Regions from separate parts of the Homo sapiens genome. Here region 1 is linked to region 2. The links come from fine-mapping of genetic effects on gene expression. A gene starts in region 2. The other region holds a variant in brackets. All regions are shown on one strand. Distances are between the middles of the regions.

Evidence for each region. PIP is the estimated chance that this variant, and not a neighbour inherited with it, causes the effect.
Region 1: its variant is the best candidate, but not a certain one, in a credible set for the expression of EXOC1 in fibroblasts (GTEx, PIP 0.50).

The regions. Positions count from the first base shown.
Region 1 is chr4:55,904,314-55,909,703 of GRCh38, reverse strand. EXOC1 (exocyst complex component 1) reads right to left here. Exons shown (of 19, transcript NM_001024924.2): 19 at 4,618-5,361. The coding sequence ends at 5,209. All of the region lies in intron 3 of EXOC1-AS1 (EXOC1 antisense RNA 1), which reads left to right. Among named protein-coding and RNA genes, the nearest start is that of EXOC1-AS1, 41 kb to the left of the region's middle. The variant G/T (reference allele first, on the strand shown) is at 1,997.
Region 2 is chr4:55,850,638-55,856,027 of GRCh38, reverse strand. It overlaps EXOC1 (exocyst complex component 1), which reads right to left and starts at 2,380. Exons shown (of 19, transcript NM_001024924.2): 1 at 2,075-2,380. RefSeq lists a silencer at 2,489-2,588.

The sequences.
Region 1 (5,390 bases), 54 kb before region 2:
AATATATTCTTCTTCCCTGTTTCATCTATCCCACCGCCTTTTGACTTTCTTCCCCCATCCTCTCTTTTTAAAAAATTTTCCATAAGTTATTGGGGTAGAGGTGGTGTCAGCTTACATGAGTAAGTTCTTTACTGGCGATTTGTGAGATTTTGGTGCACCCATCACCCGAGCAGTCTACACTGCACCATATTTGTAGTCTTCTATCCCTTGCAACCCCCTCTTGCCGCCGAGTCCCCAAAGCCCATTGTATCATTCTTATGCCTTTGCATCCTCATAGCTTAACTCCCACATATCAGTGAGAACATACAATGTTTTGTTTTCCATTCCTGAGTTACTTCACTCTGAATAATAGTCTCCAATCTCATCCAGGTCACTGCAAATGCTGTTAATTCATTCCTTTTTATGGCTGACTAGTATTCCTTCATATACATATATCATATATATGAAGGACATATATCATATACATTCATATATATAATGTATGAAGGATATATATATCATATATATTGATATATATATACCATATATATGAAGGATATATACCATATATATGAAGGATATATATATCCTTGGTGCCTAGTGTCATTCAGAGGCACAAATGATGTAACTTTACACTTCAAAGCTTTGCAACTTGAACTGCAGGGGCTGTGGAACAGCAGCATTGATGCTACTTGGGAGCTTGTAAGAAATGCAGAATCTTGGGCGACACAAAACCTATTGAATCAGAATATGCATTTCAACAAGATTCCCAGTTGTTTAATAAATACAATGAGAAACATTGAAGTAGAGGATCCCAAAGCATATAGCCATGAGAACTAATAATCTTTGACACCATTGATATTACACATTTAACTTTCCTGGAAAAGCTATTTTTACTTTCTTAGTACTTTCTCATCTACAAATATTCTCTAAGTTATGATTTTCAACAGTTTGTTTAAAAGTTCTGTGTTCCTCTCTTGTTATCACTTCTAGCAAATAATAGTATAGATCTTTAAGGTTTATAAAACTATAACTGATGGGAGTTATCCACCACCTTTTAAGTAAGAGCCATATCACCTCATTACAATTAACCATTGCCTGCTAATGAAGATACCAGACACTGTTTTGTCCTTGGAGGTGGTATATGTTTATATCTGTGTCATCCCTGATATCAATAGAGAAAAGGAAGTGTTTGGCACTTTGAGAGGGAATTTGGTGTTGTGTGGAATATCAGCTCTGTTAATACCTGGCTTGGACCTTGATCAAGGCACTAAAATCTCCTTTGGTCCTAGATCTTATCTATAAATGTCTAGGTTTCATTATCTATCAGTAAAGATATATGCATATCCACATATATGAATTTGATTTTAAATATTTAAATCAAGTGTTGAATTGATATAAAATAAGATTTATGACTGGGCATGATGGCTCATGCCTGTAACCCCAGCACTTTGGGAGGCTGAGGTGGGCAGATCACTTGAGGCCAGGAGTCTGAGACCAGCTTGGGCAACATAGCAAAACCCCTTCTTTAAAAAAAAAAAAAAAAATTCGCAGGACATGGTGGCATGCACCTGTAGTCACAGCTACTTGGGAGGCTGAGGTGGGAGGATTGCTTGGGCCCAGGAGGTTGAGGCTGCAGCAAGTTGTGATCGTGCCACTGTACTCCAGCTTGGGTGACAGAGCGAGACCCTGTCTCAAAAAAAAAATTATAAACTATATATAGGATATAAAGTATCAGGATACAAAAAATCTGTGTATGCACTGTCCAGTTTAAGAATATTCTAATATCCCTTTGAAATCCTGTATGTCCCTGCCAGACACCATCCCCTTCCTTTCCTGCTCCTCCAATCACTCCAGAATTTTATCATTCTCTTTTCTTTAGTTTTACATTTGTAATCCCAAACCACATATTATTTAATCTTAAAGGTTTCTGAATTTTTATATTAATAGGATCATACTGCATGTATTTTGTGATTTACTTTCATCTGACATTATTTTCTTGTCATTAATGTACATT[G/T]TTTGTATAGCAGAAATTTACTTTCATTTTCACTACTGTATTGGTATTCTACTGAATGAATATATACCTCAATCTATCCATTCTACCATTATGGACATATGGGTTATTTGCAGTTTTTTGCAGTTATTTGCAGTTTTTTGTTATTACAAACAAAAGTAGTGATGGGAACTTTCATTAGACTTTGTATTAGTTTGGTGCAAAAGTAATTGCAGTTTTTGCCATTACTTTTAATGGCAATGACTTTGGCACCAACCTAATATTAATTCATAATACATGAGTTTCTTTGTGGCAGTGGTTCTCAATCCTTAGAGTACCAGAATTAGTGGGAAGCTTTTAAAAACCATAGATGCTTGGGCCCCACTCTGGACCAATTGAAATGTAATGTCTGGGGCCCAGCCACATGTATTTATAAGCACATAGGTTATTCTAATGTGTAAAGCAGGAAACGAAGGGGAGGGTATCTGGCAGAGACATACAGGATTTTAAGATCTATTCCTTTGGGGCACACACCTAAGACTGGAATTACTGAGTCATAGGTGACACACATCTTTACTAGATAATGTCAGATGGTTTAAGTGATTATAGAAGCATTTGTGTTTTGATGGCTTCACATCCTTTTGAATTCACATTTCCTTGATAACAAATAAAGGTGAATACTTCGTATGTTTATTAGCCATTCTGTTTCCTTCGTCTGTGAAATGCCTTTGTAAGGTTTTTGGGTTTTTCTGTTCTATGGTTTTTTTTTTTTAGACTGATTTTTGGGAGCTTAAAAATAGGCTTTGGATGCTGATTGTTTTGTGACGTGTTGCAGTTATATTCTCTTAATTTGTGGACTGTTATTTCACTTTCATCAAAAGACCATTAAGTTCTTATTTTTAATATAGTCAAATCTATTATTTTTTTCCAATTTGCAATTTTGTGTCTTTTTAAACAAAATCCTTCTCTGTCCTGAGGCAAAAAAGATATTTTCTTACACTGTCTTTGAAAAGTTCTATATAGTTTTTGCCTTTCACATTTAGGTATTCAGTACACGTGGAATTCATTTTGTGTGTGTGGTGTGAGACACGTGTTCCATTTTCACCTTTTCTCTTATGGACTACCAAATGTCTCAGTACCATTTATTCCAAGTCTATCGTTTCCCCACTGACTTGCCGTGCCACACGGGTAATAGTCCATTTTTTATGGTTCTGTTTCTGGGCTCTCAGTTTCATTCCACTGGTCTATTTGTTTATCTTCGTACCAATAAAATGCTGCTTTAATTATAATTCTTGATAAGGAAACTCCTTCCAGCTTCCAAGGGGAGTATTGGCTATTAGTCTTTTGATCTTTCATATAAATTTTAGAATCAGCTTGTCAAGTCCTACAGAAACAAAACCAAACAAAGACAGTTGTGATTTTGACTGGAACTGTGCTGAATCTTTAAACTTGAAAATAACTGCCAGCTGGTGCAGTGCCTCACACCTGTAATCCTAGTGCTTTGGGAGGCTGAGGCAGAAGCCTCACTTGAACCCAGGAGTTTGAGATCAGCCTGAGAAACATAGTGAGACCCCATTCCTACAAAAAATAAAATTAGCCAGATGTGGTGGTGCACATCTGTAGTCTCAGCTGCTTGGGAGGCTGAGGTGGGAGGATCACTTGAGCCCAGGAGATAGAGGCTGCCGTGAGCTATCATCACACCACTGCACTCCAGCCTGGGTAACAGAGCTGAGAGATCCTGTCTCTCTCAAAAAAAAACAAACAAAACAAAACAAAACAAAAAGGACTGCCATTTCTACTTTAGTATATGTGTTCTTATCTGGAAACATTAAATACTTCTTCACTTATTTTGGTTTTCTTTAATATCTTTCAGTAGTTCTAATTTCTCCATAAATGTCTTATACATCTTGTATTAGCTTGGGCTGCCAAACTATTTTCTCAGTTTTGGAGGCTGGAAGTCTGAGATCATGGTGCCAGCATGGTCAGGTTCTGGTGAGGGCTCTCTTCCTGGTTTGCAGACAGCTGCCTTCTCATTGTGCCCTCCCACAGCAGAGGGAGAGTGAGCTCTGCTGTCTCTTCCTCTTCTTACAAGGGCATTGAGTCTATTGGATCAGGGTTCCTACTCTTCTGACCTCATTTAAACTTAATCGTCTCCTTAAAGACCCTATCTCCAATACAGCCACATGGGGGGTTAGGGCATCAACATAAAATGTTAGTAGGGCCACAATTCAGGATATAGCACATCTTTTGTTAGAGTTAGTCCTAAATACTAAACATCTTCAATATTATTATTTTTCTTATTTTTTTTTCAAGTGACAATATCTTGCTATGTTGCCCAGGATGGAGTACAGTGGCACAATCACAACTCACTCAAACTCTTGGGCTGGGGCAATCCTCCTGCCTCAGCTTCTCAAGTGGCTTAGATTATAGGCATGTGCCACCACAAAAAATTGTTCTTCTATGGAGACAGGGTCTCACTGTGTCGCCCAGACTAGTCTCAAATTCCTGGCCTCAATCAGTCCTCCCTCCTTGGCCTCCTAGAGTGCTGGAATTACAGGCATGAACCACTGCACCCGGCTTACTTTACTTATTATTAAACTTTTAAGTGTTTTGTGGTATATAAACTTGCAATTAATTTTTGTATATGGATTTTGTAAGAACTTGCTTTAATACAGAAGACAGCATATGATAGACCTAAAAATATTATCAAATGTCAACTTTTTTGAAAATTTATTTCACATTTATTACTAGTCACATAATCCTCAAAAATCTAAGTTCACAAATGATCATCACATGAGCCCTCTTCTCCATATACACATTTGTTAGTGTGAAAAAACAATTTTGTACAGTATTTTAGTAGTTACATGATTAGCAAGCAACAGAGAAGTAGTGAAAGCTGAAGAACTCCAAATGCATTGCTCATAGGACAACCACTCAAACACAAGCAGCTAGGCAATAAAGGAAAATTTCCCATCCAGTCATTGAGAAATGCTAAAGGCATTTTATGGTGACATGAATGCTTAAGTTAGTATGCAACCTATAGGGCAAATAAAACTGCTATATAGGTTGGTAATTTTGCATTTAAATATTTGTAGTATGGTACTACCCATTTATCTAACATTTAATAATACATAAAATTTTAAGTCTGGGTTCTCAAAACAGTTGCTTGGTATTTTGGTATAGTGTCTGTTATACTCAAATGCTTCATTCAGTTATCTTTTCTTCTTTCACAAGGTTTAGTGGGACTGTGCAATGCTGGAACAATAATCCAGAATGTCCTGAATAGTGAATTCCATTGTAACACCAGATCCAGGATAACAGCGAGCTATCAAACCTTCAAAGTGCTTATACTGGCGTATAAATTCATCTTGCATGGAGTGCCACACCACCTATTATTAAAAAAAAAAGTCATTAGGCT
Region 2 (5,390 bases):
CTAGCAGTTAGCCTCCTCCCGCTCTGCAAATGACTTAACAATCTACCTTGCAGAGGATATAAAAGCCATGAAATACAATTATCCCCAATTGCTTGCTTCTCCGTCTCTCCACACCTTCACCCAACCTCTCCTCCTTTTGGCTTATTATAGAGTGTCCATGCTGCTAATCCCTTAATATGTTGTAGGGCCCAGACACTATGTTATATTTCTTCCTAAGCCCAAGCCACAATGGCACTGGCCAGTTTACTTTTCTATCTCTGGGCTTTTGTTCATGCAACCTTCTTTTCCTAGAATTCTCTTCTCCCTAGGAAATTACAATTCATCCCTCAAGATTGTGCTAAAATGTCATCTTTTCTGTAAAGTAGCCCCCTCCCTGCAGCCGCCCCACGCAAAGAGTAATTTCTACCTCTCTAACACTTCCCCTCTACTTCATAAATACGGCATTTATGAATTGTATTTTCTAGCTAGCTGTATTTTATCCCCTATTAAAAGTAGGACCATGTCTTAATCATCTTTGTATTCCTAGAACTTGACAAACTAGGCATTTAACAAATGCTTAAATTCACTAACATGACAGCTATAGCTCCTCCAAGATTCCCCTTTCCTAACTTTCACATCTATAAGCAAATGTCCAGGTTCAAAATCTACCATATTTGCTTCCCTATTCCCTTATCAACATGAAATCTGCTACCACATTCTGCGATTTCCCCCCATCTACATGTAATTTATTCCTTTCTTTTCGCACTGCAAATATACTGACCCAGGTTCATATCAACTTTACTTAACCCTACAAAATCTGGTTCTCTTTGCAAGGTCCCACAACCCTGAACAACAAGATAATTTTAAAAGACAGTTTGTATCACATCACGCTTTTACTCAACGTTTTCCTAATGTTCTCAAAAACATTCCACTCCAAACACTCTGTTCATTTTGGACATCAAATCTTCACTTTGGTACTTTCCATGTAAGGAATATCATCTCCGCCCTATCCAAACCCTAATTACACTTCATGGTTTACATGAAGTTGATTCAATGAAGATCTTAATCCAAAGTGATCTCTCCTCTAAATTTCTACAGCACTTACTGCATTTGCCGTCTAATGGGCTCATTAAATCATAAGCTTCTCTATCTCAAGAATTCTCTTAAAGAAGGGAGGGATGTTCATCATAGTTTTGTGTTTAGTGGATACTTAAATATCTATTAAGGTAATTAGAACTGAATAGTAAAAACTGGTCAAATGAATAATAGGGACCAACGTTTACCACATACTCCTTCTCTGGCTAAAAGCAACTGAGTGTACAGTAAGAGGCAAAACAAGACAGGATTGGGCATACCTCATAAAGGAGTTAGCCATAATGAAAAGCAGTATGTGACTCTTCATTCATTCAGCAAATACTCATGCTTATTAGGTGGCAGACACTATTCTAGGTTACAGTAGTCAACATGACAGATATGTTTATGAAGACCTGAAGCCGGGTGTTTCTATGGCATTTACATCCTAAGAGTCGAGTGATTAACTCTTCAGTCTTTACGGTACTTTTCTGAAAGTCAGTAAATAAATCCCTAGAGGTCCTCTAAAATTATTCTCCAGGTCTGAGAACCCATATCTGACCACGTTCCAAAGGCAGCCATCCACTGCTTACTCTGTACTGGTTGTTTCCTTCAGCTCAGTTGGACCACCACACTGTGTGACAAATAGCCTGTCAGTGTGAGTGCCCGTGTGCATTGGGCCCTGTATGCTGCTGAGATATATTAATGCATGAAGCATTGCCATCTAGAAGATATAACTGTGCAAGGAAATAGAGAAATACACTTAAGAGATTTGGCGGGGGGTGGGGGGGAGTTGGGGTTGGGGGGCCGGGATGTGAATTTGGACAAAGAGGAAGGCACAGTCACGCTCTCCTCTCCTGGACCACGCCAAAGAGCTTACGATCAGGGTCATTTTGCACAAACAAAATCTGGTTCCGATGGGCGGAACCGTAATGGGGCCCGTGAGGACTGCCCTCCCAGCTCCGCATTCTCCTAGACCCGAGGACAAGGGACTGGAGAATGCTCTGACCAAACTTCGTCTTACCGGGACAAACGGGGAAAGGAAGGTCAGAAGGAGCGGTGCCCGACCCCAGGCGTGGAGACAGCAGCCGGACTGAGGAGCCGCCTTAGACCCTGGTGCCTGTCAGCTCGTCTGTCCGCCGCCGCCGGGACTACCGGGCAGCCGCGGCCGAAGGCTTACCGCAAGGCCGGACTGAGCCTGGCTGTGCCGAGGCGGGTCTTCCAAAACGGAGACCGGATGGGGGCCACTAGGATACGCCCCTCAATAAAGCGTTGAACGGGAAGCGGCCGTTCCCCCAACACTTCCTATATCCGGGCACGTGACAAACTCCGCGCCGGAAGTTGACCGCGTAGAGAAGGAAGAAGCAGCGATGGGAGAAAAAGGGAGCGGCCAATAGACGCGGAGGGGCGGGGCGCCAACCGACGGGCGTGGCCAGGCGGAACAAGGCCTCATTGGAGGGGCGTGTCAGGGAAGGGCAGGGGCGGGGCCTTTGTGGCACAGAAACTGACTTGGGAGTTGGGGATTAAGAGTTATTTATTCAGATATTTGCAGCAATTCATTTAAGAAGAAATTCGATTAAATGTTTTCTTTTTTCATACGTAAAGCTCTATTAACTCTAGATCTTTGCTACTTAAACTTTGGAGAGCTTAAATGAGTTAAATCAGAATCCCTGCGGGTGGGACCCAGACATCAGTACTTTTAATATCTTCCCAGATGATTCTCATATGCAGCTAAGGTCAAGAACCATTGTCCTCATGACCTTGATACTCAAAGTGTGGTCCGTGGATCAGCTGCTTGGGTATCATCTGGGGGCTTTTTAGGAAATGCAGCCTCTCTGGCTCACTTCAGATCTACTGAATCAGAATCTGCATCTTAGCAAGATGATGCTTATGCATATTTAAGTTTGGGATGCATAAATGATGCCAATGTTGCTGGTTGCAGGTAGGTGTTTTATTTATTCAATATTCCTGGCACCTTTTTTTTTTAATGCTAGGCACTTTGATTCCAGGTACAGAGGTGATTCAGGCATGAATCTTAACCTAAAGGAGTTCACAGTGTGGTAGGACTAGACAAGGTGTAGGTACAAATATATATAAAATAGGACACAAAATAAGTGACCAAAGAGAGGTACAGATCAGATAAATGTGCTAGAAATTTAAATGAGCAAACAGTAGTTAGAATACTTTTCACTTTCATCAAATGACTTCCCTTTTAAGAGCAGGATCTGGTTATATCTTTACAAAGACCCTTTCCTGCTTGGCACCGGAATGCTTACTGTGGACACTCTATGACAATTGCATGTGTTTTTTGGTCCTATTATCTTTCTTTTATTTACCTGTATGTTTATAGCCCTCCTCAAAGTTGGGAAATGAATTGCATTTCAGAAGCCTAGATCTCTTTCTTGAACCTCAAGATTTGTGTATATACTGCCCATCGCCTGACATTTCCACTTGGATGTCTTATAGACACCTCAAACTTGTGTGTCCAAAAATTAAATTATCCTCTCTCCTCTTGGATTCCCTGCAAAGTGACACTTATATGCAATAGTTTATTTGGAAATTTGATCCCAGGGAGCAAAATGAGGGAAGAGGAAGAAGACAAAACAAAAAGGGAGATGCAGTATAAGAATGTGTTACTGAGTTGGTCATCACCATATTTGAATGTTTTCTTAGTCCCTTAGGACCTTCTAAGAAGCTTTATGAAATGAGTCTCAGAACTGTCCATTAAAGGAAAGAACGGAGGAAGCATTTGTATGTCGGCTCCTGTCCTCTTTGATCGAAGGTTAATGCCCTTGGGCATTAACTACTTCACACTTACAAATCGCACAGTTGTGAATGCCAAGCTGACTCCCACATCAGAGACATGCTGGGGCAGGAAGTGAGAGGAGAGGTGCTGGTATTTCGCACTTGTTCAAAGGTCATCAAACCTGCTCCGAGCAGGTTGCTGCAGCAGTGGTTAGAATAATAGGCTGAAGGGATTTGAAGTCATGGCCTAAGTTGCACAGAAGGACATAGAAGGTGTCCATATCTTGCAGCACTCTGATCTGCCTGTGTGCTCTGTTATGTTCAGTCCTTCACAGAGGTCTCTTCAAGGTGATGGCCAGCCACAATCTCAGCAAAGCCTTAATATAAGAGAGTTAATAGAATAAGCTTCAGTTTTTACTGCTGCATCAATGTCAGGACCATACTTGTATTAACTCCCTCTTCCACTACCCATTCTAATTTTCCCTCACCATTGACCAGCACATCAGCTGGTCTAAGTTGTTTCTCTGGTGAAATAGCCCCCACCTTCAGCCTTTATTTTCCTTTCTCTGGTTAAGCCATGATTGCTGTAATTACCTGTTCAAATTATCCCTGGGTACAGAAACACCTAGTAAGCCCCAGCGAATTATTTGGATTCCAAATTCCTCCCTAGTGCTATTGTGGAGCAACAATCCTAGATCCTTTTGCTAATCACAGTTGATTACTCCCACGAGCATAGTAACTCCTTTCTTTGCCAGCTTGTCCACTTCCGTAAGAAGCACAAGGTAACTAAGTAAAAGTTTGAAGTGCAATGAATTCCATAGTGTTTATCCTGGTGGCAGCATTCCCCACTCAACTCCTGAAGAACCAATTATTGCAATCTAGCAAATACTAATTTTTTTTTTTTTGAGACAGAGTCTCGCTCTGTCACCCAGGCTGGAGTACACTTACATGATCTCAGCTCACTGCAACCTCCTACCTCCTGGGTTCAAGCAATTCTCATGCCTCAGTCTGCATGGCTTACTACCATGTTGCTTCCAAGTCTTTGCTCAAATGTTACCTCACTGAGGCCTTCCAAGAGAACCCTATGTAAAATAGTTCCCCAACCACCCTCCTCCCAGTATTTTTTATCTTCCTTTTTTACTTTTGTTCTTCATGGTTCTTGCTACATTTTGACATATTGTATATGTTGTTTGTTCATTTGCTGTTTCTCTAGAATGAAGTTTTATGAAAGCAAAGATTTTTATCTGTTTTTTTCAGTGATGTATCTCTGATTCCTGGAACTCAGAATAATATCTAACAATTACATAGCACTTATTATGTGCTATGTACTATTCTAAGCATTTTACATGTATTAATTAACTTAATCATCACAACTACCCTGTGAGGAAGGAATCTTTATTATCCTCATTTTAAAACCAGAAAACTGAGGAACAAATTGTCTAGTCCTAGGACACGTGGTATACCATGGTAGTCTCTCAATGAATATCTTTATGTCATCACAGCCTACTGCATGAAGTAGACTTAAGAAGCAACATGAAATAATGAAAAGTATATCATTACTGGAATTGACACAGGAGTGGGGCAGGGAAGTGCTG